Linked DNA regions of Homo sapiens. The protein of the gene in region 1 interacts with the protein of each later gene in a pairwise test. Each region holds a gene or a part of one and is shown in the gene's direction. Other genes may lie near its edges. The genes, in order: TSGA10IP, RORB, BICD2 and WWOX.

Evidence for each region.
Region 2: the proteins of TSGA10IP (region 1) and RORB interact in binary tests that used the Homo sapiens proteins (3 or more experiments, as listed by UniProt).
Region 3: the proteins of TSGA10IP (region 1) and BICD2 interact in binary tests that used the Homo sapiens proteins (3 or more experiments, as listed by UniProt).
Region 4: the proteins of TSGA10IP (region 1) and WWOX interact in binary tests that used the Homo sapiens proteins (3 or more experiments, as listed by UniProt).

Annotation. Positions count from the first base shown.
Region 1 is NC_000011.10:65,948,480-65,957,179, forward strand, and holds part of TSGA10IP (testis-specific protein 10-interacting protein), read left to right. Parts: intron 1-5,087; coding exon 5,088-5,258; intron 5,259-8,700.
Region 2 is NC_000009.12:74,492,659-74,501,289, forward strand, and holds the start of RORB (nuclear receptor ROR-beta), read left to right. Parts: upstream 1-4,676; 5' UTR 4,677-5,318; coding exon 5,319-5,325; intron 5,326-5,583; exon of another isoform or gene 5,584-5,895; intron 5,896-8,631. UniProt on the Homo sapiens protein: Nuclear receptor that binds DNA as a monomer to ROR response elements (RORE) containing a single core motif half-site 5'-AGGTCA-3' preceded by a short A-T-rich sequence.
Region 3 is NC_000009.12:92,719,563-92,728,262, reverse strand, and holds part of BICD2 (protein bicaudal D homolog 2), read left to right. Parts: intron 1-5,454; coding exon 5,455-5,607; intron 5,608-7,507; coding exon 7,508-7,963; intron 7,964-8,680; coding exon 8,681-8,700. UniProt on the Homo sapiens protein: Acts as an adapter protein linking the dynein motor complex to various cargos and converts dynein from a non-processive to a highly processive motor in the presence of dynactin.
Region 4 is NC_000016.10:79,207,833-79,214,046, forward strand, and holds the end of WWOX (WW domain-containing oxidoreductase), read left to right. Parts: exon of another isoform or gene 1-3,775; coding exon 3,776-3,964; 3' UTR 3,965-4,835; downstream 4,836-6,214. UniProt on the Homo sapiens protein: Putative oxidoreductase. Acts as a tumor suppressor and plays a role in apoptosis. Required for normal bone development. May function synergistically with p53/TP53 to control genotoxic stress-induced cell death.

The DNA of each region.
Region 1 (8,700 bases):
TTATCTACTCATGGGCCCTTAGGATATAACTATTAAAAGACTTGGAATTAGCTGGGCATGGTGACACGTGCTTGTAGTCCCAGCTACTCAGGAGGCTGAGGTAGGAGGATCTCTTGAGTTCAGGAGATCAAGACTGCAGTGAGCTATGATCCCACCATTGCATTCAGCATGGGCAACAGAGTGAGACACTGTCTCTAAAAAAGAAGTTAAGGGGCCGGGCGTGGTGGCTCACGCCTATAATCCTAGCACTTTGGGAGGCCAAGGCGTGTGGATTGTCTGAGCTCAAGAGTTCGAGACCAGCCTGGGCAACATGGCGAAACCCTGTCTCTACTGAAAATATAAAAAATTATCCAAGTATGGTGGTGTGTGCCTGGAGTCCCAGCTACTCAGGAGGCTGAGACATGAGAATCACTTGAACCTGGGAGGCGGAGGTTGCAGTGAGCTGAGATTGCAGCACTGCACTCCAGCCTGGGTGACAGAGTGAGACTCTGTCTCAAACGAACAAACAAACGAACAAAAAACCCAGCCTGGTCAACATAGCTAGACCCCTGTCTCTACAAAGGAAAAAAAAAAGATTAGCCTGGCTTGGTGGAAAGTGTCTGTAGCCCCAGCTACTCCAGAGGCTGAGTCAGGAGGATCTCTTGAGCCCAGGAGATCAAGGCTGCAGTGAGCCATGATGACATCACTGAATTTTAGTCTGGACAACAGAGCGAGCCTCTGTTTCTAAAGCAAAGGAGACAGTGGGAGCTGAAGGGGAGACTGGAGGCTGTGAGGAGACTGTTGGCAACACTGAGGTGAGGAACCAAGAGGCCCTGTGGATGGAGGGAGGGGATCCATTTAAGAGACACTTAGAGGCTGGTTCAATAGGCCATGGTGACTGGTGACAGGAGGCATGTGAGGGCAGGGGAGAGTTCATTCAGCATTCTTATAGCACCCCACAATTTTTTTTTTTTTTGAGATGGAGTCTCACTCTGTTGCCCAGGCTGGAGTGCAGTGGCACAGTCTTGGCTCACTGCAACCTCCGACTCCCAGGTTCAAGTGATTCTCCTGCCTCAGCCTCCCAAGTAGCTGGGACTACAGGAGCCCACCACCACGCCTGGCTAATTTTTGTATTTTTAGTACAGACGGGGTTTTACTATGTTGGCCAGGCTGGTCTTGAACTCCTGACCTCGTGATCTGCCCGCCTCGGCCTCCCAAAGTGCTGGGATTATAGGCATGAGCCACTGCGCCCAGCCACAATTCTTTTTTTAAAATTTATTTTATGTAATTGATAAATAAAAATTGTATTTATGGTGTACAACATGAGGTTTTGAAATATGTTTATATTGTTGAAGGTCTAAATCAAACTAATTAACATATGCATTACCTCGGTTTTTTTTTTTTTTTTTTTTTGAGACAGAGTCTTGCTCTGTTCCCAGGCTGGAGTGCTGTGGTGTGATCTCAGTTCACTGCAACCTCCGTCTCCAGGGTTCAAGCAATTCTCATGCCTCAGCATCCCAAATGGCTGGGATTACCGGTGCCTGCCACCACACCTGGCTAATTTTTGTATTTTTAATAGAGATGGGGTTTCACCATATTGGCCAGGCTGGTTTCGAACTCCAGACCTCATGATCTGCCCGCCTCAGCCTCCCAAAGTGCGGGGATCACAGGCGTGAGCCACCACTCCCGGTCTTACTTGATTTTTTTTTTTGTAGTGAGAACACTTAAAATCTACTCTTTTATTGATTTTTAAGTATACAATACATTGCTTTTAACTACAGACACCAGATCATACAATAGATCTCTTGAACTTATTTCTCCTCTCTAACTGAAATTTCTTATCCTTTGACCAACATCTCCCTTCTTCTCCCCACAAACCCAGTGAGGACTTGGTAACCACCATTCTACTCTCTGCTTCTATGAGTTTGACTTTATTTATTTATTTATTTATTTAGAGACAGGGTCTTGCTGTGTTGCCCAGGCTGCAGTGCAGTGGCACAATCATGGCTCACTGCATCCTTGACTTCCAGGGCTCAAGTGATCCTCCCACTTCAGCCTCCTGAGCTCTAGGACTGCAGTCATGAGCCACCATGCCTGGCTAATTTTTTTTTTTTTTTCTGAGATGGAGTCTTGTCTCACTGTTGCCCAGGCTGGAGTGCAGTGGCGCGATCTCAGCTCACTGCAAGCTCCGCCTCCCGGGTTCACGCCATTCTCCTGCCTCAGCCTCCTGAGTAGCTGGGACTACAGGCACCCGCCACCACACCCAGCTAAGTTTTTGTATTTTTAGTAGAGATGGGGTTTCACTGTGTTAGCCAGGATGGTCTCGCTATCCTGACCTCGTGATCCACCCGCCTCAGCCTCCCAAGGTGCTGGGATTACAGGCGTGAGCCACCACACCTGGCTGCTGGCTAATTTTTAAAATTTTGGTAGAGATGGGGTCCCATTATGCTGAGTTTGACTTTTTTAAGATTTGGCACATAAGGGAGATTATATGGTATTTGTTTTCCTGTGCCTGGCTTATTTCACTTAACATAGTGTCCTCCAGGTTTATGCATGTTGTTGCAAATGATGGGATTTTCTTCTTTTTAAGGCTGAAGAATGCCATTGTGTATATATACCACCTTTTCTTTATCCATTCTTCTGTTGATGGAATCTTAGGTTGATCTCATATCTTTGCTACTGTGAATATTCCTGCAATGAACATAGGAGTACAGCTACCTCTTCAACATACTAATTTCATTTCCTTTGAATATGTACCCAGAAGTGGGTTGCTGGATCACATAGTAGTTCTACTTGTAATTTTTTGGGGAACCTTGATATTGTTTTCTATAATGACTGTACTAATTTATATTCCCACCAACAGTAAACAGAGATTCCCTTTTCTCCACATCATCACCAACCCTTATCTTTCATCATTTTGGTAATAGTCATTCTAACAGGCGTGAGGTGATATCTTATTATCATTTTATTTTGCATTTCCCAGATGATTAGTGATTAGTGATGAAAAAGACATTTGTATGTCTTTTTTTGAGAAATGTCTATTTGGGTTATTTGCTTATTTTATTATTATTATTATTATTATTATTATTATTATTTTGAGATGGAGTCTCGCTCTGTCGCCCAGGCTAGAGTGCAGTGCCACGATCATAGCTCACTGCAGCTTTGAATTCCTGGGCACAAGTGACCCTCTCACCTCAGCCTCCTGAGTAGCTGGGATTACAGGTGCATGCCACCACATCCAGCTGATTTATTTTTTAACTTTTTATTTGTAGAGATAGGTGTCTTGCTATGTGGCCCAGGCTGGTCTCAACCCCTGGCTTCAGGTGATCCTGCTGCCTCCACCTCCCAAAGTGTTGAGATTACAGGTGTGAGTCACCATGCCCTGACTCTTTGCCTTTTTTTTTTTTTTGAGATGGAGCCTCACTTCGTCACCCAGGATGGAGTGCAGTGGCATAATCTTGGCTCACTGCAACCTCCCCCTCCCAGGTTCAAGTGATTCTCTTGCCTCAGCCTCCTGAGTAGCTGGGATTACAGACGTACATCACGAGGTCTGCCTAATTTTTTTGTATTTTTTTAGTAGAGACAGGGTTTCACCATGTTGGCCAGACTAGTCTCGAACTCCAGACCTCAAATGATCTGCCCGCCTTGGCCTCCCAAAGTGCTGGGATTTCAGGCAACAGCCGTCGCGCCTGGCCTTTGCCCATTTTTTGAGTTATTTGCTTTCTTGTTACTGAGTTACTTGAGTTCACATATTTTGGATATTAACCCCTTTTCAGATGTATGGTTTGCAAATATTTTCTCCCATTCTGTATGTCATCTCTGTTGATTGTTGCCATTGCTGTGCAGAAGCTTTTCAGTTTGATGCAACTTCATTTGTCTATTTTAGCTTTTGTTGCCTGTGCTTTCTGGGTCATAGCCAAAAAACCATTGCCCAGACAAGTGTCGTTAAGCTTTCTTTTGTGTGTGTGTGTGTGTGTGGTGTGTGTGTGTGTATGTGTCTGTGTGTGTGTGGCAGAGTCTCAATCTGTCACCCAGGCTGGAATGCAGTGGCTCAATCATGGCTCACTGCAGTCTTGACTTCCTGGGCTCAGGTGATTCTCCCACCTTAACCTCCCGAGTAGCTAGGACTACAGGTCTGGTCCACCATGCCTGGCTAATTTTTTGTATGTTCAGTACAGATGGGGTTTAAGGCTGAAGAATGCCATTGTATATATAGACCACCTTTTATACACAATATATACACAATATATACCATTGTGTATATATACCATGTTGCTCAAGCTGGTCTCAAACTCCTGGGCTCAAGCGATCCACCTGCATCAGCCCCAAAGTGCTGGGGTTACAGGTGTGAGCCACCATGCCTGGCCTTTTTTTTTGGCTCAAGATTGCTTTTGCTGTTTGGAGTATTTTGTGGTTCTATATTAATTTAAAATTGTTTTTTCTATTTCTGTGAAAAATGTCATTGGAATTTTGATAGGCTTGCATTGAATCTGTAAATTGCTTTGGATAATATGGACATTTTAACAATATTAATTCTTCCAAAGCACCCTTCATTTCTTTTTTCTTTCTTTCTTTTTTTTTTTTTTTTTGAGATGGAGTTTTGCTCTTGTTGCCCAGGCTGGAGTACAATGGCGTGGTCTCGGCTCACTACAACCTCTGCTTCCCTGGTTCAAACAATTCTCCCACCTCAGCCTACTGAGTGGCTGGGATTACAGGCATATGCCACCACGCCTGGCTAATTTTGGCATTTTTAGTAGAAACAGGGTTTCACCATGATGACCAAGCTGGTCTCAAACTCCTGACCTCAGGTGATCCGCCTGCCTCCACCTCCCAAAGTGCTGGGATTACAGGCATGAACCACCGTGCCTGGCCTGGAAGCAGGAGACTTCTAGAAAGAGTAGGGAAAGGCCTTGAGCTGGGACCGAGGGCTGAGCCTCCAGGGCAGTCTCTGTCATGGACTTCCATGACAAACCCTACTCCCAGGACACTGGCTCTGGACACTGCAGCCCCTCCCCACAGGCTTCCATATTCCCTTATCCAGCCCCTGGCCCTCCGTGAGGCTCCTGCTGCCCGTGAACCTCTCATTCCCCTTCCCTTTCTCACCCAAGGAGCCTGCTGCAGGCCTGGGAGCGGCAGCGGCAGGAGGAGCGGCAGCAGGCCGAGCTGCGGCGGGCCCGGACACAGCATGTACAGCGGCAGGTGGCCCACTGCCTGGCAGCCTACGCACCCAGAGGGAGCCGGGGCCCTGGGGCGGCCCAGCGCAAGCTGGAGGAGCTGAGGTAGGGAGCCTGGGCTTCGGGAGGCCTGGTTGGGAGAGGGCAGGGAGGCCGTGTCAGGTCTCAGTCTACAGGACCGAGGAGCACCAGCCCTCGCCTTCCCTGGGGCTAACCAGGCCACTTCACCGCGTTTCCAGATAAGGACGCTGAGGCATGGGGAGAAGGGGTCTGTCGAAGGCCACCCAGTTAATAATGACAATCTCTGCAGCTGTTGAATGGTCAAGGTTAAAATATTCTACATGTATGATCACACTTTCAAATCTTCATTTTCTGATTTCCAATGCCAGACATGCTTGTTATAAAATTTCAAAGATTACAGAAATAATGCCTGGAGAAGGTGAACAGCCGTGTGACCCCACTCTGGGAGACAACCATTGTTCACAGTCAGCTGAAGAGTCGCGTTTTGTTCTCTTCCTATATTGTGACCATTTTCCTTTTTTTTTTTTTTTGAGACGGAGTCTCGCTCTGTCGCCCAGGCTGGAGTGCAGTGGCGCGATCTCGGCTCACTGCAATCTCCGCCTCCCAGCTTCACGCCATTCTCCTGCCTCAGTCTCCCGAGTAGCTGAGACTACAGGCGCCCGCCACCACGCCCGGCTAATTTTTTTTTTTTTTTGTATTTTTAGTAGAGACGGGGTTTCACCGTGTTAGCCAGGATAGTCTCGATCTCCTGACCTCGTGATCCACCCGCCTCAGCCTCCCAAAGTGCTGGGATTACAGGTGTGAGACACTGCACCTGGCCGTGACCATTTTCCTAATAAGCAGATTTGTGGGCAAACGTTTTTGGACTCCTAACAGGTCCGTGAAGCAGGGAGTATTGCTGCTGGTGGGCCAGGTCAGGTTCTTCCCTTGGCCGCACAAAAGAAAAAGTTTATTGCAAAGCAAAGGCCACCCTGACCAACATGGTGAAACCTCATCTCTACTAAAAATACAAAAAGTAGCCAGGTGCGGTGGCACATACCTGTAATCCTAGCTATTCGGGAGGCTGAGGCAGGAGAATTGCTTGAACCCGGGAGATGGAGGTTGCAGTGAGCCGAAATTGAGCCACTACACTCCAGCCTGGGCGACAGAGCAAAAACTCCATCTCAAAAAAAAAAAAAAAAGCCCACCCTGAGGACTGCTCAGAGGGAGAGACGGCAGCTTGTGCCTTAAGAGGAATTCCTTTTATGGAAGTTGTTTATACCTAGTCACAAAATACTGGTGAGGTCAGGTATGCAAAGGTGGACCTGTGGTGGGCGCATGCGCTCAGCATCTGCATGCTCCAACACGCATCACATGTAACATTAGCATATACAATCTCTACCTAGGGGTGTGTTTTTTTACCATCAAAACGAGGAAAATGTTGCTATAAGCTAAACCTTGAGCCTAGCTGTGTATGCGGAACCCCGAGAAGTCCTTAGCTCCCTCCAAGGCAGGAATTTGTAGCTAATAGCTTCTTGGGCTTTTGGTGCTGATTGGCTGGAGATCGGGGAAGCTACATTATGAATAAGGGGCTTTTGTTTTTTTTTTCCTGGGCTGTGCTAGGTATGAGGGAACTTGTAGCCATCTGGTATCCCCTAAGACTGCTTATCTTGCAAAAGAGTTAGGTACTCGGCTGTACGCCGTGGCTCACACCTGTAATCCCAACACTTTGGGAAGCCGAGGTAAGTGGATCACCTGAGGTCAGGATTTCGAGACCAGCCTGGCCAACGTAATGAAACCCCGTCTATACTAAAAAATATATATACAAAAATTAGCTGGGCGTAGTGGCGCGCGACTGTAGTCCCAGCTACTTGGGAGGCTGAGGCGGGAGAATCACTTGAACCCGGGAGGCGGAGGTTGCAGTGAGCCGAGACTGCACCATTGCACTCCAGCCTGGGTGACAGAGAAAGACTCCGTTTCAAAAAAAAAAAAAAGAGTTAGGTGCTGATGCACGAGGGCACAGGGGCTGCAGAGCTCCTGCGAAAGGAGCCCCTGGGGCTTCATACAAGGGGAAAAGTCAGTACGGCCCGCTCACCTTACTATCCTACCTTGGTATCTCCACCTGCATAACCCCACCGGTGAGGAACCTGAGGCTCAGAGATCTTCAATAATTTGTCAAAGGTCATGCATGGGCAGCAGAATTGGGTTCCAGCCACGATGCTGCCCTGCCTGAGCACTCAAATCCTCCGCTTTTAGACGAAAGGCACCAGGACCTTCCCCCAAGAGCCCAAACCAATGACACATGTAACACAAATAAATCAAATAAATATGACCAAAACCAGTGCCATTGATTTGAGCACCTCCTGGGTGCAGCGGGCGCAGGGCATCTTTTTCTGCACCCTGTCTCCTTTGGTCCGTGGCAAGTGGGGTGAGGGTCCTGCCCTGCCTTAAGGCCACTGACGGCTCAGCGGGGTTCTTATCACCTACTCTTTGAGGCTCAGTCTTTTTTTTTTTTTTTTTTTGAGACAGAGTTTCGCTCTTGTTGCCCAAGCTGGAGTGCAATGGCGCGATCTCGGCTCACCGCAACCTCTGCCTCCCGGGTTCAAGCAATTCTCCTGCCTCAGCCTTCCGAGTAGCTGGGATTACAGGCATGCGCCTCCACGCCCGGCTAATTTTGTATTTTTAGTACAGACAGGGTTTCTCCATGTTGGTCAGGCTGGTCTTGAACTCCCGACCTCAGCTGATCCGCCCGCCTCAGCCTCCCAAAGTGCTAGGATTACAGGCGTGAGCCACCGCGCCCGGCCGAGGCTCAGTCTTAATCACCCCAATTTTACAGATTTGGAAACAGAGGCTCTGAAAGGTCAAGTGTGTTTTGGGGGACTGCTTGGGCCAATGTTTAGGGGGATCCTTTCTCCTTCCCAATCTTGCTCTGTTGCCCAGGCTGGAGTGCAGTGGTGTGATCTCAGTTCACTGAAACCTCCATCTCCCGGGCTCAAGCAATTCTCCTGCCTCAGCAACCTGAGTAGCTGGGACCACAGGTGCGCGCCACCACACCTGGCTAATTTTTTTGTATTTTTGGTAGAGACAGGGTTTCACCATATTGCCCCAGCTGTCTCAGACTCCTGACCTCAAGTGATCTGGCTGCCTCGGCCTCCCAGAGTTTTGGGATTACAGGCGTGAGCCACCGCGCCCAGCCAAGTGTTTTGTTTTCACAGTGAGGCAGGAAGTGTAAGGTTCAGAACTCCAAGTGGCAGGTGCAGCAAAAAGAGTGATTCAACCTCACTCCTTTTACTTTCTATTTGAGAGGGCTAAGGCATAAGTAGGTATCTCCCATGCAGTCTCTCAGCCATTACAGCCTATGAACTTCGCTGTCTGAGCGGAACAGGAGACTCTGTCCTGCCTAGGAAGGGCAGGCACAAAAGAGGTTGTCCTGTGGGAGGGAGGGATGTGTCTCCTTCCATTCTGAGATGATGGACGGGGCTGACACCCATAGGCACCACTTCCCTTTCTGCTCAGGGCTCCTGTCATTGTTTTTTTGAGACAAAGT
Region 2 (8,631 bases), on another chromosome or scaffold:
CATTTTACGATTTGTGATCTTAGGTGAGTTAACTTTTTTAAGCCTCTGTTCTTTTAGCCATAAAATAATTTTTTAAAAGATGGGGAGGAGGAAGAGATATAATGTATAACATGTAGACTCTTGTAAGAAATAGAAATTAGATAGGTTGAGAAATCATGTGATTCATCCAATAAATGTTGGCTCTTGTTTTTTCTGACCTGTATGTTTTGTCTTTGTTCCAAAGCTAGCCTTACCTCTCCCACATACTGGGGTTAATTCATGCTTTGGCCCTTATCACCTTTTCCAATTTATTTCAAAATTACATGCTCTATTTTAATATTTGCTTTCTTTTTTTTATTTTGAAAACTTATTGAACTTGCATCTACACTTTAAAATGAAGCAGAACTTAAAGAACTCAAAGATTATGAAGAAGACTCAGTACCTGGGAATAAAATTGAGAATAGGGCTGGGTGTGGTGGCTCACGTCTGTCATCTCAGCACTTTCGGAGGCTGAGGCAGGCAGATCACTTGAGGTCAGGAGTTTGAGAACAGTGTGGCCAACATGGTGAAACCCCGTCTCTACTAAAATACAAAAATTAGCCAAGCATGGTGGTGGTCACCTGTAATCCCAGCTACTCAGGAGGCTGAGGCAGGAGAATCACTTGAACCCAAGAGGTAGAGGCTGCAGTGAGCTGAGACTGTGCCACTGCACTCCAGCCTCCAGCGAGACTTCCTTTCAAAGAATAAATAAATTAATTAAGAATAGTAATAAATATGAAAATAACTAAATTTTAGCTTCCTTTTATGACTATATAACCAATCTCAACCATTATTTTTTGCTTCCCCAAATTAGGAGAGTTTAAAATGCAGATTCTCCCCACTCTCCTCTTCCCATTCAATAGAAACTGAGAAAGAAGGATCTTATTCAGGTCTTCACTCCATTTGTGATTCATATTCAGTGGCTGAAAGGTTAGAAAGCATTCACTCCACCAATAATGATCAAGCACCCATAAAGTACCAGGAGCTCTTACAAACTCTAGGGAAATCCTGGCTCCTGTTGTCATGAATTTTGCATTCTCAGGTAGGAAATGTGGCTCTGATGCCTGCTGGGGCAGTGGTAGCAACCTTTAGTCCATGTGAATGCAGGCATCCCTTGGTATGCACGGGGGATTGGTTCCAGGACCTCCCACCGATACCAAAACCCACAGATATTCAAGTTTCTGCTATAAAATGGTGTGTAGTATTTGCATGTAACCTATGCACATCTTCCTATATACTTTGCATCATCTCTAGATTACTTATAATGCCAATGTCAACACTATATAAATAATTATTATACTGTATTGTTTAGGGAACAATGACAAGAAAAATATCTGTACATGTTCAGTACAGACACAATTTATTTTTGCTCTGCTCTTGGTTGAATCCACAGTTGTGGAACCCATGGACATAAAGGCCAACTGTACACTTAGAGCTACAGAGGATCTTGGAGGTAATCTAGACAATTTCTACCCTAGTATAGAAATCTGTATACTAGAGCATCTCTAACAGAACCTTTCATTCAACCCTTTTTTGGATGCCTTCAGCAACAGGGAACTCAGTACTTCCCTTCCCACTTGTAAAAGGTTTGAATGTTAAAAGTTCTTACATTTTTCTGGCTTTTCTAATATTTAATAGCAGCTTTATATCTCTTTCCCAATTTTCACAGCCACACAGCTCCCTAAATAGAGTTAAACATAACCAATCTTTCAGTCATTCCTAAAAGTAACATTGTTATCAGTATTGCTAATGTCCATTCAAGAGTCTTAATTATTTAAAATATTCCCTGACCAGTGAATATTCTGACTTATCAGCTCAGAATAACATGAACTATGACTTCCTGTTTAAGCCTTTTAGGATTGAAATAATCCTAAATGCCATGGTCACCCTACCTGGTTGGCTTATATTAAAACTTTGCCTCTTTCAGGATATTTGTTGTCATTCCTATTCTGTGGTACAGCTCAACCTGAGGGGTGCTAATGTGTCAGAAAAACAGGTAAGCAGGCAAGCCTAAGTGGAATCTGATGTCAATTCTTGAGATTGAGGACAGTGCTATGTGACTGATTGTCATTTAAATTAATCAACATGCAACTGTCAACTTAGAAAATCCTTCAGGCCCAGAGTGAAAAGCAGAGTTTCAAGCTTATAGGAAACCAGACATAATCATTCAAATAAAATTACTGATACCGTACTTCATATGAGCTAGGACATTACAGTAATGTATTATTATTATGCCACTTGAAATATGATTATTTGCTGGCAGATAGGTTACAAAACCATCAGATTATATATATGTGCTTTGTGAGTTCTTAGAAAATACTGACTTCTTTCATTCAAATTCTTAATATTTATTTTAAATAAATGGGCTCCATTCAGTGAAATAAATGTGAAAATTATTAGAAATATTCAACAAACCAGTTTTTAAATTTTTAGAAAGATCCAAAATGTCCCAGGCCGCCACATTATAACCAATGATTAGCATTTAAAGAGAAAATACATACTTTTGTATCACCATATATAGAGATTATATACATAGTTTTGAAAAATGAAATAATATAGTCTTCTAATTAATAATTTCTCCAAAAATACTCAGAAGGAATTAAGAAATATGTTCTAAGCAAAATTATGCCTTGCTGAAACCACAAAATAAAGAGAATATAAAAATGTATGGGGGGGTAAATACTTTTTATACACGTGTTGACTACCTTTTTCAAGGATTACAGATATTGCAGCATTAAAAAAAAATTCAGAATTCAATAAATGTTTAGAAAGTTAAAATTACATAAATGTTTAAATTTTTGGATTTTGAAATTCCTGTTCACTCTAAAGAGAAATAGAAATCTAAAATGATAACAACAACAATAATAATTAGACAATGTTTACAAAGCCTTTGGAATTTTCAATATTCTTGTGTCTCTGCTTGAAGCAACAAAATTAAAATGATATAGTCACAATTTGTTTCTTGACTATTTTATATTCAGTAATTTTTAATGAAGCAACTAAATTAGGCATAACTTTGTACAGCTTTAACATAGTTATGATGAATATATTTTACTTGATTAAAAATGATAAAACCAGGGAGCCTTAAATATTATCTTAAAAGATTAACTACTGTGTCAATTACAAATCTAGGAGAAAGATATTTATAAAGGAATAACTATTCTAAACAGTAACTTCCTTTTGTTCATTTCATTTAATTAATGACTCAATCAACTTTCACTCTTAATACTAAAATTTTCCTAAATTACACATTGGTTTGCAAATGGGATGGCATATAGCAGGGCTACGTCAATTTAATACTGGTGAAAATTCAGCAGATAATTCATTTTTCATTTAATCAGGAAGGAAAAAACTACTTGGCAGTGTAGAGCGACCTAATTAACTAAATAACTGCCAATTCTACATTGTACTTTGTGTTACATGACATATCATGAATAAATACCAGTCAAAAATCAAATTATTTGGATACTTAAATGATGATGAGGCCTGCTGTGCCAACAGGTATGCTAATGAGTAGACATCTCCCAGCCTCAAGACTGAGTGAATGAGGCAAATATTTTCACCTCCCAATCTTTTAGGGTGTTCAATTAACTCAAGTATTTAAGAAGTTCCCTACTATTGGGAAGGAAGTAGATGTAATCATCTATATGCTTATTTTGTCAACTGAGTTGGAAAAACTTGCAAAGGAACAGTTTGGATATATGTATTAGATTTTTATCAAAATACAAATAAATGGTCATAGATGACAATTTTCACCTAAGGAATACAAGTAAGTTTATCTATGTTCAGTTACCAATCGCCTCTAACTAAAGTTAACAATGTCTTCCTTCTAAAACCTTTCTAAAGAGCACCCTGCAATCACACCTTCTAGCAACAGCCATTTCTCTTGAATTAGTAAGGTGGCTACACCGCCAATTTGAGCTGTTCTCCTTCAGTCCTGTAGTCCATCGCCAGGGGAGTCTCCAAATGCTAATAAAAATCAATTTCCCAGACAAAAGAACATATACACGTTTTTTTCTTTCTTTCTTTCTTTTTTTTTTTTTTTTAGAAGAGGGTCAGGGAGCATCTGACGGACGTTTTTAAAGGAAGGGGACAGCTACTTCCATGGGACTGCATTTTAGTTGTGCTAAAAGTGATGAAAGTGGGTTTGCATTATTCTACCACCAACACCCAAACCACCTGCCCACGGAAACCCCCGCCGGAGACCGAAGTTTACCCAAATAGCGCTCGGCAAAGCGCTGCCATAAATTCAAAACTAACTCTGCCGGGCCCGCGGGGGTTGCGAGACAGGGACCGAACGTGAAACCCGGGGAGCCCCGCGTCTCTTGCCTCCGAAGGTTTTCCGTGATCAGTGTCCCCTTCTCTGCTGGAGTCGGAAGTGCCTGTCACCTGCGGATCTGCCCGACTCTCCCGGTCGGCCCTTCTTCTCTGCCCAGTTCGGACAGTCTCGAATTCCCCGTCGCAGCCCCGGCCACCTCGGACTCCCTGGTCCCCAGCCCCCGCCCCACCCCCCGCCTCCACCACGTCCCCTCCCCGCGGTCCCAGCCTCTCCAGGCGCTGCTGGGCTCTGATTGGCGGCTGCGCTGACAGCAGGCGGGGCCTGGAAGTCGCGGCCAAGCCCGCCCTCGCGTATAAGCCCCTCTCAGCGCTCTCTCTCCATCTCTCCCCTCTCTTTCTCTCTCGCTGCTCCCTTCCTCCCTGTAACTGAACAGTGAAAATTCACATTGTGGATCCGCTAACAGGCACAGATGTCATGTGAAAACGCACATGCTCTGCCATCCACACCGCCTTTCTTTCTTTTCTTTCTGTTTCCTTTTTTCCCCCTTGTTCCTTCTCCCTCTTCTTTGTAACTAACAAAACCACCACCAACTCCTCCTCCTGCTGCTGCCCTTCCTCCTCCTCCTCAGTCCAAGTGATCACAAAAGAAATCTTCTGAGCCGGAGGCGGTGGCATTTTTTAAAAAGCAAGCACATTGGAGAGAAAGAAAAAGAAAAACAAAACCAAAACAAAACCCAGGCACCAGACAGCCAGAACATTTTTTTTTCACCCTTCCTGAAAACAAACAAACAAACAAACAATCATCAAAACAGTCACCACCAACATCAAAACTGTTAACATAGCGGCGGCGGCGGCAAACGTCACCCTGCAGCCACGGCGTCCGCCTAAAGGGATGGTTTTCTCGGCAGAGCAGCTCTTCGCCGACCACCTTCTTCACTCGTGCTGAGCGGGATTTTTGGGCTCTCCGGGGTTCGGGCTGGGAGCAGCTTCATGACTACGCGGAGCGGGAGAGCGGCCACACCATGCGAGGTAAGCGAGTCTGCGGGCACCGAGGCTCCCCGAGTCCGGCCAACTCCAGCCAGACGGGGAGATGGGGGAGGGGAGGGCACCCAGCAGAAAGGGAAAGAGGTTGCCCAGGCGCAGTTCCCCGAATTCGCTCTCGCAGGTGGGGCTGCAAATGGCCTGGGCGTAGAAAGTTGCGGGAAGGTGTTGATGTCTTTCGGGAGTTCTGGAGGGACGCGGGAGGGCGCTTTTTTGGAGAGGGGAGACAGGCTAGTTGGTTCTTACCAGTCCTTGAGTTGCACTGAATCTTTTTTGCTTGTCGCTCTCGGGTGCGGAAGCGGACGCGGGATGGAGAAAGCCGAAAGAGGGATGCCTCTGGACAGGAGCAGTTTGGAAGCGCCCGGCGCGCAGTGGTCGCCGGCCGGGTTTGGGCGCGCGGGGCGCACCGGCCGGGGGCAGGGTGGACACGCGCGGGCACACACTCGCCAGGTTACGAGGCCCACTAAGCGTCCTGGCCAGCAGGCATGTCCCTTCGCTGGAGTAGCAAGCAGAAGAGCAGTGCTGCGAGGCTGGACGCGGCTGAGGAAACAGTTAGTTCCCCGGCACGCGGCTGAGGAAACAGTTCTGCGGCGCGCGCCTTCGTGCCGGCGCTGCGCCCTGGCCAGGTCCTCGTGCCCGAGCCCGCGCGGCCCAGGGAGTAGTGCGACCCCGGAAAAGTTGTAATGAGAAAGTTCTGGAGGCTTGGAAAGGCCACACTGCTCACAGTCGGAGAGTCATGGGCTCCGGCTCTTTTGTCAGATAAAGGGCCGGTAGTGGAAGGAGGTGCTGGTGCACCCTCGGGCCAGGACCCTCGCAGTCGCAGGCGGTGGCGGCGGCGGCGGCGGGACCCCGGGGCGAGCTGGGGTCTGCAGGGATGCGCGCCAGGGACTGTAGCGTTACGCTTGCTCCGGCTGGACTCTGGGCCTCTCGAAGGGCTGGAGGGTGGGTTTCGGGGAGTCACTTGGTCTCCTCTCCTGCCTTGCCGGAGACCTCAGGTTTCCTTCGCGCTGTGCTCGGCCTTTCTTCACTCTTTTACTGAAGAGCCAGGCGGGTGTCCGCTTGACATGGGGATCTGTGCAAGCTCTGGGCACCCACCCCCACTCCCAGTCCCTCTTCCTGGCCACACAGCGGTTAATCGGGGGCTCTTCTCTATCCTTCGCACGTACCCCTGGGTCTTGACAACAGAAAGTTAGTAACGGCCAGCTCCAGACCTTCTTGCATCCCAGACCCGGAGAGAGGTGGTCTAGGCAGGGAGCACTTGGGAGAGTTGGGATGCAATCACTGGTCTCCTCCTTCCACTGAAAGTGATCCTCTCCCACCCAGTCCCCCTACGCCCCTAGAGGAGCACCCCAGGAGGCAGCGGGTCTCACTCCCACTCCCTCCCGCACCCGGTGAGCCCCGAGCCTGGACTCAAGGGTTTGCTGGCTGGACGCTGGGATGTGTCAGGAAAGGGAAGGAGAAGAAGGAACGGAGAGAGACTGTCCATGGGGGAGGGGGTTGACTGTAGATAAGAAACAAGGACGTCCTGATGGGATGGTCTTGATTGGCCGGCTCGCTGGGAGTGGGGCACCCGTGTGTGTGCGCGCTGGCTCCAGCTGATTGTCCCGGTTGGGGGTTGGTTACACGCTCCACTGTCTAAATTCTTTCAAGAAACTATACTTGGGCAATTGGAGAGTAGAGAACCTTGGCTTAGTAAGAGACGCCCGGTCTTTTGTTTTTCTTTTTCTAGCCCATCTCACCATCCCATCCATTCTTTCGGTTTCCCCCGTCCCAGTCCAGAGCTGCCAGTTCGTCCCTCCCCTTCTTCCCTTCTAACTTTCCCCCTGTGGCTGGGTTCATACTTTCTGAACGTCGTAAACTATGCGCCACCTCAGCTCGGACCCAGCACTAGGACCTAGGGCATAAAATCCGCTCACTCCTTACATCGTAGAAGGAGTGCGGCGCGGGGTGGGGATGGGTTGTAGCTTGATCTAGCATCTCCTGAAGGAGCAGTTTGCAGATGACTGTCCTGGTTCGCCACGGCGGTCGCTTTGAGGACTCCAGAAGCTGGAAGGATTGAAAGCCAGGCGCTGGTCCTCATGCTCACCTTGAGAAAACCAGTTTAAGCCCACAGACCTATCAAAGAGGGCGCCAGCCTCGCCAGGCGCCCTAGGACCCCTTACAACTTCTAACTTGAGGCAGCTCTCAGGCGGCCTTAGGGGAATGCGCTGGAGAAAATGTAAGCTTAAAAGATGACCAGGTCACTCTATCGCCATTCCTGGTTGCCCTTTCCTGACCCCTAGTGTCTTTCCTTACTACCTCTTCATATTTTCCCCGGACAGTGCCCTACCACAGTATGAGAGGCTGTTCCGTAAGAATGGGATTGAGAAAAGATCCAGGCTACTCTGACGTCTTGTGGAGTTGGGAGTTGAACTTGAGAGTGAACTTGAGAAGTGAAAGCGGGAAAAGAATCAGCTTTCGCTCGTGCAGGGCTACTAAGCACCCTATGTTGGGAGAGGGGCCATTTTTGACCTGGGCTTTACGGTGGGCCCACTGCATTTCCCTCATCCACACGCGCGCGCTTTCCATTCCCAGGTGGTCCTAGTTAGCGCCTGGGCTCCACAGTTTGCAGCTGACAACTGTCCTGAATCAGGGCGCTTTGAGCGACGGAAAGGTGATCTGGGATTCAGTGGTCTCCCTCGGGGCCAATCCGGCAAACCTATTCCCACCCCCTACTCCTCCCCCGCCTAGGGCATTTAAGAGACTATCCCCAGGGAAGCTACGGGGAAAGAAAGGGGTTAAGAGTCCCTGATCTTTGACGTCCTTGTCCTGCCCCACGGCTGAACTGAGTCCCGGACACAGCGCAGTTGCTTACTCTAGCCTGGGGCGGAGGAGGTTGTATTTGGTGGCGCACAAAGCCTTTCATCCTTTGTCTGTGAGAGGGTACCACAGAAGTTCTAGAGAGGCTTCTCCGTAGATTTCATTACTGAAAGGAATAACTTCTGAAGGCGAAAGGGAGGACCTTTAATTGGGCCCATCACTAGGTGAGAAAGAAGTGAGCCGAGGTGTGGGTTTCAGGGTTCCTTCTTGAAAGATCTGTGGGCTGTTTATTACACAGGGGCGCGGAAATGGTCGGATTTTTCAGTCCTGCCTCCACGGAAAACCCTGCTTCCAAAAACAGGGGCACAGATGTCGTCGCAATCAATAGGTGATTGTCGCTGGGGCGGATTAGAAATCTGGTTTTATACTTGCTATAAACAAGGATTGGGTTTGGCTTTTTTAAAGTCTAGTTTTCCTCTATTATTTGCAGGTAGT
Region 3 (8,700 bases), on another chromosome or scaffold:
CCAGCTGCTCATGGCCCTGACACTAAGGCCCTGGAGTTGTGGAGGACTGGGGAGCCCAGGGGAACGATGTGGCCAAAGCAGGATTTGGGAAGGTTGCTGTGGTGCCTGGAACCTGTGTAGTTTGAGCCCAGCAGGAGGAGGAGAGCCAGGAGTCTCCATCCACTGGGGCAGGTGGGAGGAGAGTCTCGCTGGCTTGAACAGGAGGCTCAGGGAAGGTTGAGTGAGCACCTGAGTGTCTTTTCTCACTGACTGGCACATATTTTAATTGAGCCCTGCCAGGGCCTCGGTGTCTGTGGAACCTGAGGAAACAGTGTGAGCAAAGCCTCATTCTCCTAGAAGGCATGTGGCAGATATCAGGGGAGAGCAGTACCCCGTGCCTGTCCCTGGGGCAGGGGCATGTTCACTGTGGTGCTGAGCCAAGGGCAGGAGGAGTGTCAGGAGAGTCCTGCAGGCCTGGGTGGGGCCCTGAAGGAGGCAGGGTCCAGCTTGGGTTTGGTGGCTACACGGGGAGTGGGCTGTGGGGACAAAAGTGAGGCTGAGACGACTGTCTTGGGGGCAAGAGGGGCCAGTGCCTTCTGAGGAAGGATGAGGCCCCATCACCAAGATGGAGGTGGGATGGTCCCTGGGGACTGCAAGTGGAGCTGGAAGTTGGCACGTGAGCTGCAGTCCTCCTGGCCGTGGCCTTTGAGGGTCAGCCCCAGGTTCTCATTGGGAATGGCTGGAGGAGTGGAGCATGGGTCGGTTGAGAATGGGCTGATACTGGCTTTGCCTTTCACTGAGCCTTGGGGCCTGGGCAAGGCCTTATCTTTAGTCCTGGCCTCAGTTTCCCCATCTGTAAACCGGCAGTCTCTGAAGCCCGTTGTAGAGGATGCCCCACAGGTCTTTCACCCCACATTGTGGGAGCACTTATGGACCCTTGTTCCTGACACAGGAGCACCACCCTCTGCAGCAGATAATCTTACGGGAGGTCAGCAGGGCATAGGCCCTGAGGGTATGCAGTGATTAGGGCTGCTGCTGTTGGCTTAGCATTCCAGTACTGAAGGATGCTGCCCTCGGGGTCAGCAGCGGAGTGAGGGGTCAGAGATCGCTGAGGCCCTAGGGGCCCAGGGAGGAGCTTGGCTTAGACTCAGGGTGGGGAGTCTCAGATCCTGAAGCGGCAGTACATGATCTCATTTCCTCTCACAAGGAGCCCTCTGGTCGGTGGGAGGAGGGGCTGTGTGTATGGAGAGATGTATCCTTGGCTGCCCCAGCTGCCATCTGTCTGGCCCGTCTATTCCTGAAAAGCGTGTGCAGGTGCTGTCTCCCCAGCCCAGCACATTCTGCCCCTTCTCTCTTCCAAGAGGCCTATCTCTGGTGGCAGAGGCCAAAGAGGGCTGGGTGACCCTGCTGGCTTCAGGTAAGACTGGAAATGAGCACAGCAAGTTAAAGATGCTGCAGGTCTTGTGGGGAAGAGAGGATTTCTGTGGTTCCTGTTTGTGCTTCAGGAGGAAATCCTGAGACTCCCTGCACACCCCTCAGCCTTCCCTGTCTCTCCTGAGGGTCCCCACCTTGGTCCCTGGGTCTGCTGTGTCCCCCATGACTGTGTCCCTGCCCTGGGTTGCTGCAGAGCTGTGGGAACCATCCCAGGTCTTCGCCTTGGGTACCTGGTTCGGGTGGAGCATCTCTAGGACTGACCTTGTCTCACCACCACCAGTCCCAGTCATGCATAGCTCTTGTCTTCTGCTGCCTGCTGTTCTGCTGGTCTGAGCCACTGTGCCAAGCTTCTCTGTGCCCACCCCCAGCGTGGCTTTCCCCAGTCACTGCCCAAGGCTCACACCCCATGGGTCAGAAAGGGTACATTTGACGATAAAACAGCCTTCATTGTATCCTTTGACCCACCACCCTGCTACCCACAACAGCCCCTCCCCTTTTTTCCTCCCTTGGGTCAACTGGTTGTCTGTCCCCCTCCACACCCCAACACACCATGAGGACCTGTGAAGCTTTACAGTAACAAACATATTTGGCATGTGTTGGACAGTTCTGATTGCCTCAGACCTGGTCCTTCTGGTGACCCTACTGGTATCTCGTCAGATGTGAAGAAACAGAGGTTTGCAAGGTTCCATCATGTGCCTAAGGTGTCCTGGCTGGTAGGGGGTGAGGTGCTTCTCAGATCCTGACTCTAACCGCTGTGTATGTGTGGGCCCTACATGTGGGCAGCCCCTCCAGCTTCTCTCCTGCTAGTGAGAGCATCTTTCCTGCCTGGGCCCCTGGGAGGTGGGTAAGCTTCTGAGGACTGGCCTGGATTGGGCCTTGGTGGGGATGTGGCTCCATTTCCCAGATGGGGAATCAGAGGCCCAGAGAGCCACAGGAGGCCTGGGGTCAGAGCTGGGTCTCATACACACACCAAGATCTTTCTTCATATTTGCCCCAAGAAGGAGTAGGGTGAAGGGGCTGGCCTAGGCCATCAAGGCAGAGATGAGAGTTTCCTGGTGTTGAGGTTGTCTGGTGGGGACAGGAGAGAGGGCAGCCGACCCCCTGCACAGTGGCTCCTTGAAACAGGCAATTGTCACACCCTGCTTGCTGATGAGCAGTCTGAGGTGTGGGGATCCCACAAAGGGGAGTTGAGATGGGACCCTGGTGGTCAGCTACAGGCCTGTGCTCCCACCTCCTTCATTTGGGCTGCCCAGTCACACGCAGCAGAGCTTGTCCCCTGTACTTCTTTGGGCTGACATCAGACAGGCTCACTGGGAGAAGGTGCTTACTTGAGGGAAAACTAAACCCCATGGCGACCAGTCAGCCTGTTTGAGCCCTTGGCAATTGGCCGTGTGCTGGATGGAGGTGCTAGGTGGCAGGCCACATGAGCCTGGCTGCCTACGCCCAGTAGTGTGGGCATGGAAGCACAGTGTTTGCGTCCTACTACAGCATCAGCAGAGATGGTGCCATCATCACCCATGACATGGTATGGCCAGGCCAGCATTTGACCTGGGTGTGCCTCTGTGTTCTGGGTTTGGCAGTGGTGCAAGGACAGAACTCCTAGTACACCTTGCCTGGGCCAGGTGATGAAGGACCCTGAGGACTCACATGAGCACTGCCAAGGGAACAGCAGTCTCGTGTGTGCCTCTGGGGGACCCTAATGGTATGAGGCATCTGGCCAGGCTCTCTGCTTCAGTCTTTAGTTGGGCATGTCACTATCTCCCTGCCCAGGCACATGGAAGCTTCTGGGCTCTCACTTCCCACTGCCTGGAGCACCTTCTAGGTTTGTTGATCTTGACTGGCAGGCCTGGGAGAGTTGGTGGGACTCAGACCTTCCCCTCAGCTTCCACTCCGCCTGAGGAGCCGGCTGGGTGGCCGCGTTGAATCAAGTGGCACATGTTTGCACACCTGCTGCAGACCACTTGCTTGCCAGTTAGCAAGGAAAAAGCAGGAACTGGGCAAACCTTTCTGGCAGAGAGGTACCCAAGTCTCCAGCTGGGGTGTGGAGAGCCTGGGTGTGACTTGGCTTGTGCAGCTCCCCTAAGCACACTCCTGGGGGGTGCTGCACTCTCACTAGCAGGAGAGAGGCTGGAGAGCCTGCCCACTCCCTATCCACCCCCCGTGTAGCCACTGTGGGGCCCGGCCCTGGTGATGGCTGTGCTGGTGCTGCTTTCTCCCGCTTCGTCCCAGCATGCACCTCGCTCACTTTCTCCTCTGGTACAAGGCTTTGCCAGGCCTTCTCTTCCTCCCTGTGTGGTATCTCTGTTTCTTTTGGTGTCAGCTTTCTGTCACTTCCTTGGGTCACTTATAATGAGAGGGCCATGTCTGCGTCCATTTGCTGTAGGTTTTAAATGTAATCTTCATTGTAAATAGTAAGCATTTGTCAGTAGTACTTGCTGTATATTGTTGACTCTCCTCCCCTCTCTGTTGCATTCCTTTTTTCCTTTGTTTTGGGAGGGATGTCCTATTTCATTTTGCCAGTATGATCGTTTTGTGTGTACTTGCATGGGATCTTGGAATCTTGTCTATAAAGTATGTTCCATTCAGATGAGTGCACACATGTGACCAGGAGAAACCATAGCATAAGCCAAGAGAACAGTGTGAGAGGTGGGCGAAGCTATGGGGCCCGCAAGATGGACAGGGCTTCTGGCCGAGAGTCCAAGAGGGCTTTGGAGCAGGGGTGGTGATGGTCTGGGGAGCCAGGCCTTTGCAGATACACAGGGAGGCAGCTGGGTCAGCAGAGTACAGGGAGGGGATAGAGAGTTTGTCAAGGGGATGATTTTGCCCCTGGGGGACATTGGCAACGTCTGGAGAGATTTTTCAGTTGTCACAATGGAGGAGGCAGCCGTGTCTGGTGGCCAGAGGTCAGGGAGCTGCTAGACATATGATGTACAGGCCGGCTCCCACCACAAAGAAGAAACGTCCCTGAATGTTGCTAGGGCTGCGGCTGAGGGGCCCAGGTCCCTGGCACATGGCAGCAAGTTGGAAATTCTGTCTTGATTGCATCCTGTTTGCCCCAACCCTGCACTAGCCTCTCCCATGACATCTCTTGGCTCCTTATGGGCAACTTAGAGCCTGAACTAATTTTTAACAGCTTTATTCAGGTGATTTACATCTCATATAGTTCACCCACATAAGGTGTACAACTCAGTGTATTTTATGATAGTCACATATATGTGCCCCATTCCACAATCTTAGAACAGTTCATTGCTCCAAAAAGAAAACCCATTTCAGTCACTCCCCATCCCCCTCCCCAGCTCCTGGCAGCCACTAACCTACTTTGTGTCTCTATGAATTTGCCTATTCTGGATATTTCATGGAAATGGAATCATATAATGCATGGCCTCTCGTGACAGGCCTTCTTTCACTCAGCAGAATGTGTTCACGGGTCATTCATGTTGTAGCATGTGTCAGTACGTCATTCCTTATTGTGGCTGAACAACATTCCATTGTGTGGAGAGACCACATTTTGTTTATTCATTCATCAGTCAATGGGCACTTGGGCTGCTTCCACCTTTTGGCAAAATGAACGCTGCTGCTGTGAACATGTGTGGACCGGTTTCTGTGTGGGCATGTGTACATTTCTCTGGGGTAGACCCTCTGTGTTTAACAGTTGCAGCACCTGCAGGCTGTTTGCCAGAGCACTATACCATTTATATGCCCACCTGCGCACTACTGTGTACATGCCCAATAATAGAAGGCAGGAACTACTTTTAACCCCATTTTAATTTAAAGATGAAGAAACCAAGGGTCGGAGCAGGCAGTCACGGGTTCCCAGGTGAGAAGGGCTGAGGGAATTTACTCTGGAACCTCTGCAGTCCGCTGTGCACTCTGGCATACTGCTCTGGGCTCCCTCTCCTCTCCAGGCAGTCACACTGGCACCTGCAGGCCAGGGCTCTTGAGTTCTGGCTGTATGGCTGGCCATGGCGTGCCTGGCTGCACTGAGCCCCTCTCGTGCCCTGTGGAGGCTGCTCATACCTGCCTTTCCCTCTCCCCCAACAGATCAACCAGAATGTGGAGATCCAGCGTGGCCGCCTGCGGGATGACATCAAGGAGTACAAATTCCGGGAAGCTCGTCTGCTGCAGGACTACTCGGAACTGGAGGAGGAGAACATCAGCCTGCAGAAGCAAGTGTCTGTGCTCAGACAGAACCAGGTGAGTCTTGGGCCTGTGGGGTGGAGGTGGCACGTGGGTTAACTGGGCCTTGAGGACCTCTTGCTCAGCCCCTCTCCCTGTTGGGAAGGGGTTCCTGTCTTATTCCACACACCCGAGGCCCAGGGCCAGCTTTACCACTGTGGAGGCAGGGGTATACTTGGTGGGACCCAGACTCTCCAAAAGATGAAACTCTGGCTGCAGTGTTTGCTGACATTGGCCAGGCTGAGGTGTCCCAGCCAACAAAAATGAAAACAAAAATCTGAGAGGTAATGAAGAGGTTACACCAGAAAACCCCAGATTGGACTTTGAGACTCCCCCATCAGGTGCTGACCATGAGGCCTGCAATATTCCTGTGTCTCTGCCTGTGACAGGGACAAGGAAGGTCCTCTCTGTCTGTGACGGGGATGAACAGGAACCCCTCTGTCTCTAATGGGGTCTCAGAGGGACCCCTGACAGGGACGAGTAGGGTCTCTGCCTGTGACAGAGATGAATAAGGAGGGTCCCTTCTCTTTGTGATGTGACTAAATTGTCATGTGCTCTGCTGTTCTGCCACTCAAGGCCTGAACTTGCTCTTCTCTCTGCAAGAGCCACACTCCTGCATGGTGGGGAATGGGAGTCTTTTCTCTCCCAAAACTTTCCCCAGAATGCCATGGATGTCTTCCTTGCTTTCCTCAAATCCTCTACCACCAAAATCCTCTGAGTCTCACCATCAGGGAATGTGGTATTTATGCCCGGAGGAGGAAGCTCATGTGTTTATGCAGAGCTCCTAGCCTGGTCCTTCTGTGACAGCTCGAGCTCATTAACAGTCTTAGCCACTGTCTACATTGTAAGTACCATTTGGTCATTGGTGCTGCTGTTGGCAGAGCCCAGCGCATGGTGGCCTTAGGAGAAGGGAAACTGAGGCTTGAGGCGACCCTGTCCTCAGGTTGGCGCTTAGTGGAGTCTGACTCTCTCTCCCTCTCTGGGATTCCTCACCTCCGCATTTGTGGTGCTGGGACTGAGGGCTCCATGCCCACCTCCTGTGAGCACACCTTGGATGTGGTAATGGGTGTCCCTTCCGACCCAAGACCCACAGAGATGTGCTCAGCACTTCCTGTTACTGGTTTGTTTCTTATTTTTTTCTCCAAATATTACAGAAAAATAAGAAATAGTTTTAGCAATTGCCCACAAATTCTGAGCCTCCACATCAGGCATCAGTTTCTATCTGCTTTTTCCTTGCCCACCTGCAGATACAATTTTCATGTAGACAAGACTTTGATGTTGCTTTTCCCACCTACCTTCGAGCTCCTCCAGGTCTGGGTGTCATGTGCATGTGGAGGTTTAGTGGTTGAGATGTTCTGCCTTGCGGGGAGTTTCTGTTCCTTCATTTTGAACTATGATTAGAAGTCATGATCATAGCACACATTGAAATATATTTTTATGTATCTTAAGATATTTAGTTAACTGTTAATGTTAATTAAATAACTTTATAGAATTTTTAATCAGCATGCACTTGGTAATATTTGTGAATGACTTAATACAAGGTTGGCAGCCTTCTATGGATGGATGTGTGTTGTTCTTGGTGCATCTCCACACGTACAGTCCTGGCTTGGGGCCACCTCAGACATTTGTGCTCCCCTTGCTGTGTCTGCTGGTCCCAGCGGTGGGTGGGCTGGGCTGAGCATTTCATTGCATTCGCATCTCATGCCCTGGAACCTTCTTAGCATCCACATCTCTGAGCAGAGGAAGCAGTCTTGGCCTGGACGGGCTGCCACCCTTCCCAGGATGGCACCTCACCTGGCGCTTCATCTTTTGCTTCATAGTGGCCGGAGTTGGTGTGCTGGTGTGTTTTCTTCATTTATGGGGCCTGAAAGGAGCTTCCACATTGCATTGATGCAAGAGCGTTGACTTCTCTTCCCAGGTGGAGTTTGAGGGCCTCAAGCATGAGATCAAGCGTCTGGAGGAGGAGACCGAGTACCTCAACAGCCAGCTGGAGGATGCCATCCGCCTCAAGGAGATCTCAGAGCGGCAGCTGGAGGAGGCGCTGGAGACCCTGAAGACGGAGCGCGAACAGAAGAACAGCCTGCGCAAGGAGCTGTCACACTACATGAGCATCAATGACTCCTTCTACACCAGCCACCTGCATGTCTCGCTGGATGGCCTCAAGTTCAGTGACGATGCTGCCGAGCCCAACAACGATGCCGAGGCCCTGGTCAATGGCTTTGAGCACGGCGGCCTGGCCAAGCTGCCACTGGACAACAAGACCTCCACGCCCAAGAAGGAGGGCCTCGCACCGCCCTCCCCCAGCCTCGTCTCCGACCTACTCAGTGAGCTCAACATCTCTGAGATCCAGAAGCTGAAGCAGCAGCTGATGCAGGTGAGCAGGCAGTGGGGCCTTCGGCACGCTGTCCCCACTCCAGGTCTGCAGGGCTCCCCGAGCAGTGCTTACCTGACACTCTGCTGATGTTAACTTTCCCTTTTCCTTACGTTGATTTTATCTCCTGCATCATTACGGTAAATGGAACTCCAGGAGCACACATAGAGGAGTCTCAGAGAAGTGGTTTCCTGGCACTGCAGCACCCACATTGCTCCCCTGTTAACTACGTGGTGTCAGGGTGAAGTGATGAGACACTGGCCCACATGTGATCCCTGCACGCAGGCCAGGTGTCAGGGGCCCACCATGGTCATGCTTGGGCTCATCCCCTGGGACATGGATCCCTGTTGATCCAAGGCAACAGAGTCCTGTCCTCCGAAGCAGAGGGCTAGGGTGCTAATATTCCCGACTACACACCCAGCCAGCCTAGAGCTCCACTTTCTTAGCCCAGATCCCCTGTAGCATGGTTGGGGAAAGAGCCTGCGTTGAGGGTGACCACCATTACTGGTGACGGTTAGTGTTCTGAGGGCCCAGCATGAATTCCATTCTTTCCACACCCTGTGTGTCTTTGTCCACCTCACTGACAGCATGGCCAAGGAACCTGGGGCTGACAGCCTGCCCTGACATGGGGTGGGATGTCACTAGGCCATCTTGGGGGTCCTCCAAGCTCTCGGGGTCCATAGCAACTGACATGGTGTCCTGCTGCCTGTGCCTTTGCAGATGGAGCGGGAAAAGGCGGG
Region 4 (6,214 bases), on another chromosome or scaffold:
CCTTTCCTTTAAAGGAGTCAATATGCATTTGTATTCTGTGCTGACAACTATAAATTGATGGCTAGCAGTTATCAAATGAATGTTGATGAAAAGCAGCTACTTAACATTTTCATCCCAACACCGAGTTTTGGAAGGATGGATAATTTAGATCTGAGGGCCTCAACTATAAATAAACAGCAACTGCTTTCTAAATCCCACCTTTCTGTAGTTGAAGATTGTGCTGCAAATCTGACAGATGATTTTTGAAAGAGAATGATGAATCCTTATTACCAAGATACTCTTAATCCCAAACAAGAGTCCTGGGTAATTTTACATATACTCTCAAGATTGATTGCACAGTTCTCCTCTGGCAGCTCACAAATGTTTGACTAGATCGGAAATGGCATTCGGGCATGATTAAAAAGATTCTTCTGGGCTTCCCAGAAATTCTCAGTCCTGTGTCGTCAACAACCTAACTCATTGCCATTGCTGCGGGATAGACACCTCCCCCGTTTCCCATGATTAGCAACCATATACAACCTACAGGCTTCTGATAAATGATTGATTCTCAAAAAAAAAAAATCGTTTAGGGGAACCCATAGCTCCAGCCAGTGTTTGTATGTCAAGGTATTATTATTTATCACAATGGATCAGTAAGCATTGATGACAACTGGCAAGGTATTGCTTCAGATATTTTATAACGGAGTTGTTAACATTATTTCCTTTAGATGGCTCTTTCATCTTTTCTGCATTATGAACTGATGCCCCAAAAGGTGGTATGAATGAAAGTCATCTGATGGTGATTAAAGTGCTCTTTAAATTTTTTTTTTAATCAGTTTAAGAATGCTTTCTCTTTTATTGGCAGTACCTGCTTGTTTACTATTGAGATTTCACTAATGTGCCTCAGTCTTATTCTGATGATATGTAGGCCGAAAAGCTGGTGAGCCAAAAATGAGAACCTGTTACTAAACTGTCATCACATCTGATCATATTAAGATGTCACTCAGAGGTTGCCATTGGTACGGCTGAAAATTCTCCAAGAGACCAAAGGTGTGGTGTGTATGGGACCAACAAGATATTGTTACTGCTTAATTGTCCAGCAAGGGAGGAAAGTAGAGTGAGTACCCATGAGCACCAAGCATGAATCTGAGAAGGAGAATTTGCCAAAGGTGGACGATTGATTTTTGGAGTAGAGAAGGTCGTCTTTGCTTTCGGGTGCCCCTCCTGTGTACTGTGTTCTACAAAGCCAGAGCCACTTGTGATGGAATTTAGATGGTAAATCACCCCAAGCCTAGTGGCAAAGGAATCAAAGCCATCTCCTGATAAAAAGTTAGGCTTTTCAAAAAGGTATGGCTCTCAGCATTGTAGCCAAATGTAGGTTGGCATGAAATGAAGCCAGTTGTAATTGCCTTTAGATTCCGTGGAAGGAAAAGGTAGGTCCCCAGCTCCTGCAACAATGGCATTCTGAATCAATGGGACTGCAGAATTTCTTAGCAAAAATACCATTCCAGTAATGCAAGAGTGCAACGTGGTATCATTACAGTAGGTCATAGTGGCAAAATATTTTATCAGGTTAGGAAGAATTCTGCTTTTTGCTTTCCCAAACGGACTGCTTTGGTCTTTCCTCACGCTTGGCAGAACAGTGAAAGGCCAGTCTGTCATGACGTTTGAATGCTGAATAGTATAACCATTGTGGCATAGAGGGCGGGAGGCTGGACTTGAAATGGGTGAGCTGGATTCTCCCACCACTCGGGAGTTAATGGCAAGTCACTTGGCCACTCTGGTCGTTTTGGCAGCTGCAAGGTAAAATGAAAATATATGACAGATATCTGGAAGTTGATACAAAACACCATCTCCACCAGAACTCTAAGATTCCAGGCCAAAATAATACTTGGCTTGAGTTAGCTGGATGAGCATCTCAATTCTCCAATTTGTCTTTAGAGGCACTTCTGCTTCCCTTTTCCCCACATGGGATGCAGAAGAGCCAGATAAACCCCTTGAAGTTGTTTAGATAAATGTGCCAGGTGCTAAGCTCAGGGTTATTAGGAATAATAATTCAGTGAAAGGAAATTTGGATGACATGAACTCATTTCCATTAGACTTGAGCCACACAAATCAATGGGAAAAGAAACAGCTGAATCCAGGATAATATCTGGCTATTTGGAGTGGGCATGATAATGGAGGGAGATTGGGGAGGTAACAAACCAGCTACTATTAAGTTCAAGTCATGTCAGTTATTCAAATTCAGGACCAGTGGAACTTGTCCAGTATCATCAAGCAGCCAGTTATTATCAAAACCCAAGTCTTTGTCTCACTCACGGTCCACACCCCGCCCAGAGTCGTATCACTTGACTGCATTTGACCATTCAGTTTTCAGACCAACTCCATTGTTACTAGATATCCTGACACTGAAGAAGCTAAAACCAAACAACAATGACAACAACAAACCCAAGTCTGCCTTATGGCAGATTCTTCACGTCGTAACACCTTCCTTGGGACCCTATTTCTCAGTATGGACCTGACTCTCCCAGGGATCCTAGAATGCAAGCATAGTGATTGCAAACCAGACCATTTGAGGGAAACTCCTCCAGTAAGCACCCTGCATGGTCACAATGTAAACCCTGCAGGGGCAGAAAAATGATAAGCTTTGGGTCGGGTCGGAAAGCCATTTCCCCCACAATCAAAGTTCCTTAGTGTTTTCCTTGTGGGGGCGAGCTTATCTTCAGTTACCTTTTCCGGTCCTCTCTTGCAACCCCTCTCCCTCTCATCAGCTGAAAATTAGTGGATGCAGCTAGGGCTCTGAAACACATAAATAATCATAAGATGCCAGATAAACTGTATTGGTTTTAAATTAGAGACGTGCCGACCATGTCTCCCTCTGAACAGCAGCCTATTATTTTTAATTATGGCTTGCAAAGCAAAGTGATTTCTTGCCCTCTTTATAGCATCCCTGACAGTATTCTGTCAGTTTGGATGATATGATGCCTCATCACTGCACACGTCCCTAGCCACAGCCGCAACTGTTACTCAAAAGGTGAATGAAAGTGATCAGCTGCACTCTTTGCAACTTACATTTTGAAGTGGGCTGGGAGGAAATGTACCCCCTTACCTGTGGTCCCATTGTAAATCTGGGTCAAATATGACATTTAGAAAAAGGTTTTCATGGGATCTGGATGAATTAATGTGTTATGTGTTTGTGCTAAGTATGAATGTATGGTGAGGAGTGTGTGTGTGTGTGTGTGTGTGCATTAAATGTTTTAACACAACATTGCCAACCCTTCCCCTAGCAGCACCGTGGGCAAAGCATAAAGGGATGATCTGGCAGCAGCCCCACTTGGGTTTTCTACCTGATGGACCACAATTAAGAGTGGTTGGTTTGTCAGACAGAAGGTTCTACAAACGATTTGGTATCGAATTACATTATACATGGAGAAGTTGAGGGGTTGGATGAATTTGTTCTTGCACGTTCAGAAGGATACCATCTTTTTCTCTGTGTGGAAGAGGCGCCTGCCACGACGTATTGATATGTGTATTTATTTTCCAAGCCTGTCCCTGTATGAGGTGTCAAAAGTTACACCAGCTTTACAAGCGGAGTTTATGAACTCGTTTTTCCAGGATAGTCACATTATACTTTTTACAGTCATGTGCTTTCAGCCCAGTACCCTTTGCTATGCCAAGATCCAGCTGAAACTGAACCAGGTGGGGGAGGCCTGCTAATGCCCAGGCAGTCGAAATGACGCCATCTCATCACTCCTTTTCTTAAAATTTTTTTTTGTCTTTCTTCTTGGATTTCCAGCAACAGGGAGCTGCCACCACCGTGTACTGTGCTGCTGTCCCAGAACTGGAGGGTCTGGGAGGGATGTACTTCAACAACTGCTGCCGCTGCATGCCCTCACCAGAAGCTCAGAGCGAAGAGACGGCCCGGACCCTGTGGGCGCTCAGCGAGAGGCTGATCCAAGAACGGCTTGGCAGCCAGTCCGGCTAAGTGGAGCTCAGAGCGGATGGGCACACACACCCGCCCTGTGTGTGTCCCCTCACGCAAGTGCCAGGGCTGGGCCCCTTCCAAATGTCCCTCCAACACAGATCCGCAAGAGTAAAGGAAATAAGAGCAGTCACAACAGAGTGAAAAATCTTAAGTACCAATGGGAAGCAGGGAATTCCTGGGGTAAAGTATCACTTTTCTGGGGCTGGGCTAGGCATAGGTCTCTTTGCTTTCTGGTGGTGGCCTGTTTGAAAGTAAAAACCTGCTTGGTGTGTAGGTTCCGTATCTCCCTGGAGAAGCACCAGCAATTCTCTTTCTTTTACTGTTATAGAATAGCCTGAGGTCCCCTCGTCCCATCCAGCTACCACCACGGCCACCACTGCAGCCGGGGGCTGGCCTTCTCCTACTTAGGGAAGAAAAAGCAAGTGTTCACTGCTCCTTGCTGCATTGATCCAGGAGATAATTGTTTCATTCATCCTGACCAAGACTGAGCCAGCTTAGCAACTGCTGGGGAGACAAATCTCAGAACCTTGTCCCAGCCAGTGAGGATGACAGTGACACCCAGAGGGAGTAGAATACGCAGAACTACCAGGTGGCAAAGTACTTGTCATAGACTCCTTTGCTAATGCTATGCAAAAAATTCTTTAGAGATTATAACAAATTTTTCAAATCATTCCTTAGATACCTTGAAAGGCAGGAAGGGAAGCGTATATACTTAAGAATACACAGGATATTTTGGGGGGCAGAGAATAAAACGTTAGTTAATCCCTTTGTCTGTCAATCACAGTCTCAGTTCTCTTGCTTTCACATTGTACTTAAACCTCCTGCTGTGCCTCGCATCCTATGCTTAATAAAAGAACATGCTTGAATATCATCACCTGAAGTTTGTATTGTTTCTTTAAATGTTTGTTTCAGTTTGTTTTTGTTTTTCATTTTTTAGAAAAGAAATCTAGAGGAAAAATAAAGCGCTTCTAATAAAGCGCTTCTCGTAGATGCCAGGAAAACACGATTCTTGTTTCTTCTCTGAGTGAGTTTGTGTTTTGTTTTTGTGCTTTGTGGCTGTCCGTGGGCCAAGTTGTCTCACGCGATTAGCATGCCAGCATATTTTCTGTTAAAGAAAGAAAAAAGAAAAATGACTATTGTTTCATTTCACCTTAAGATGTTTTGTTATTACTTACTTACAGTGAGTTATTTTAGTCCTCAATGGTCTGCTCCCCTGCAATTAGCAAGTACTTAGTGATTAGCGGGTATCTCTATGTTTGAGAATGGGAGCTGTGCAGAAGCTCTTATCTGCGCATCCCATCTCATGGACACCATGATTTCCAGCCCGTTCCAGCAAGCACATGAGAAAGTCCACTCTGGCAAGACGGAGAAAATGCTTCTGCTGAAATACCAGGAAGGTGTGGAGGCTGGGTGTCATTGTTCCCCCTCCTGATCATGGCAGCTTCAGGCCAGACAATGTCTTGAACTTCTGTGCCTCTGCATCTGTGGTGCAGAGCAGTCGAACAAACAAACACCATTGCCCTCCAGTGGCCCATAGCCTTGCCACATCCTCCCATCTGGCTATAGTCTTCCTTACGTAATCCTTATTATCACAGGACCTTTGAAACTATGAATCAGATAATGTCACTTTTCAGACATTATTGTCATTTGCAAAAGCAGCCGTCAGAACTCCACTCTCAGAATCTACACCTGGAGGGGATCACCCCTCCCATATGACCTCTGACTTTGGCCATGTGACTGGCCTTGGCCAATTTGGAAAGTGCTTTGCACTGGGGCTTGCCTTTCCTTGTTGATCTTTGGAACCCTGCAACTTCCATCATAGGGAACGGCTCCTGGGCTAGCCTGCTGGATGATGAGAGACACGTAGTCACTCCCAGAACCGGCATCCAGCAGTTAGTTAGTTAGACATGTAAGTGAGGCCATCCCAGACTATCCAGCCCCAGCTGTGCCAATTCAGAGGAGAAGAAACTGCACATTTCACTCACAGCAATGCAAAAGATAGTAAAAGTTTATTTTAAGCCACTAAGTTTCAGGATTACATGTTACTCAGCAAAAGCTAACTGATACAGCTTCTCAGCTCACTAAGGTTAATTTTTTTCTACCCTACTTCTCTTATAATTTGGTCTCCAGCTACCTCTCTAATCTCAACTTCCAGCACTTTATCCACTAGAAGCCACTCTAGTCTTCCTCTGTTCCTCGAACATGCCAAGCACACTCCCAACTCAAGGGGTGCATATTTGCTGTTTCCTC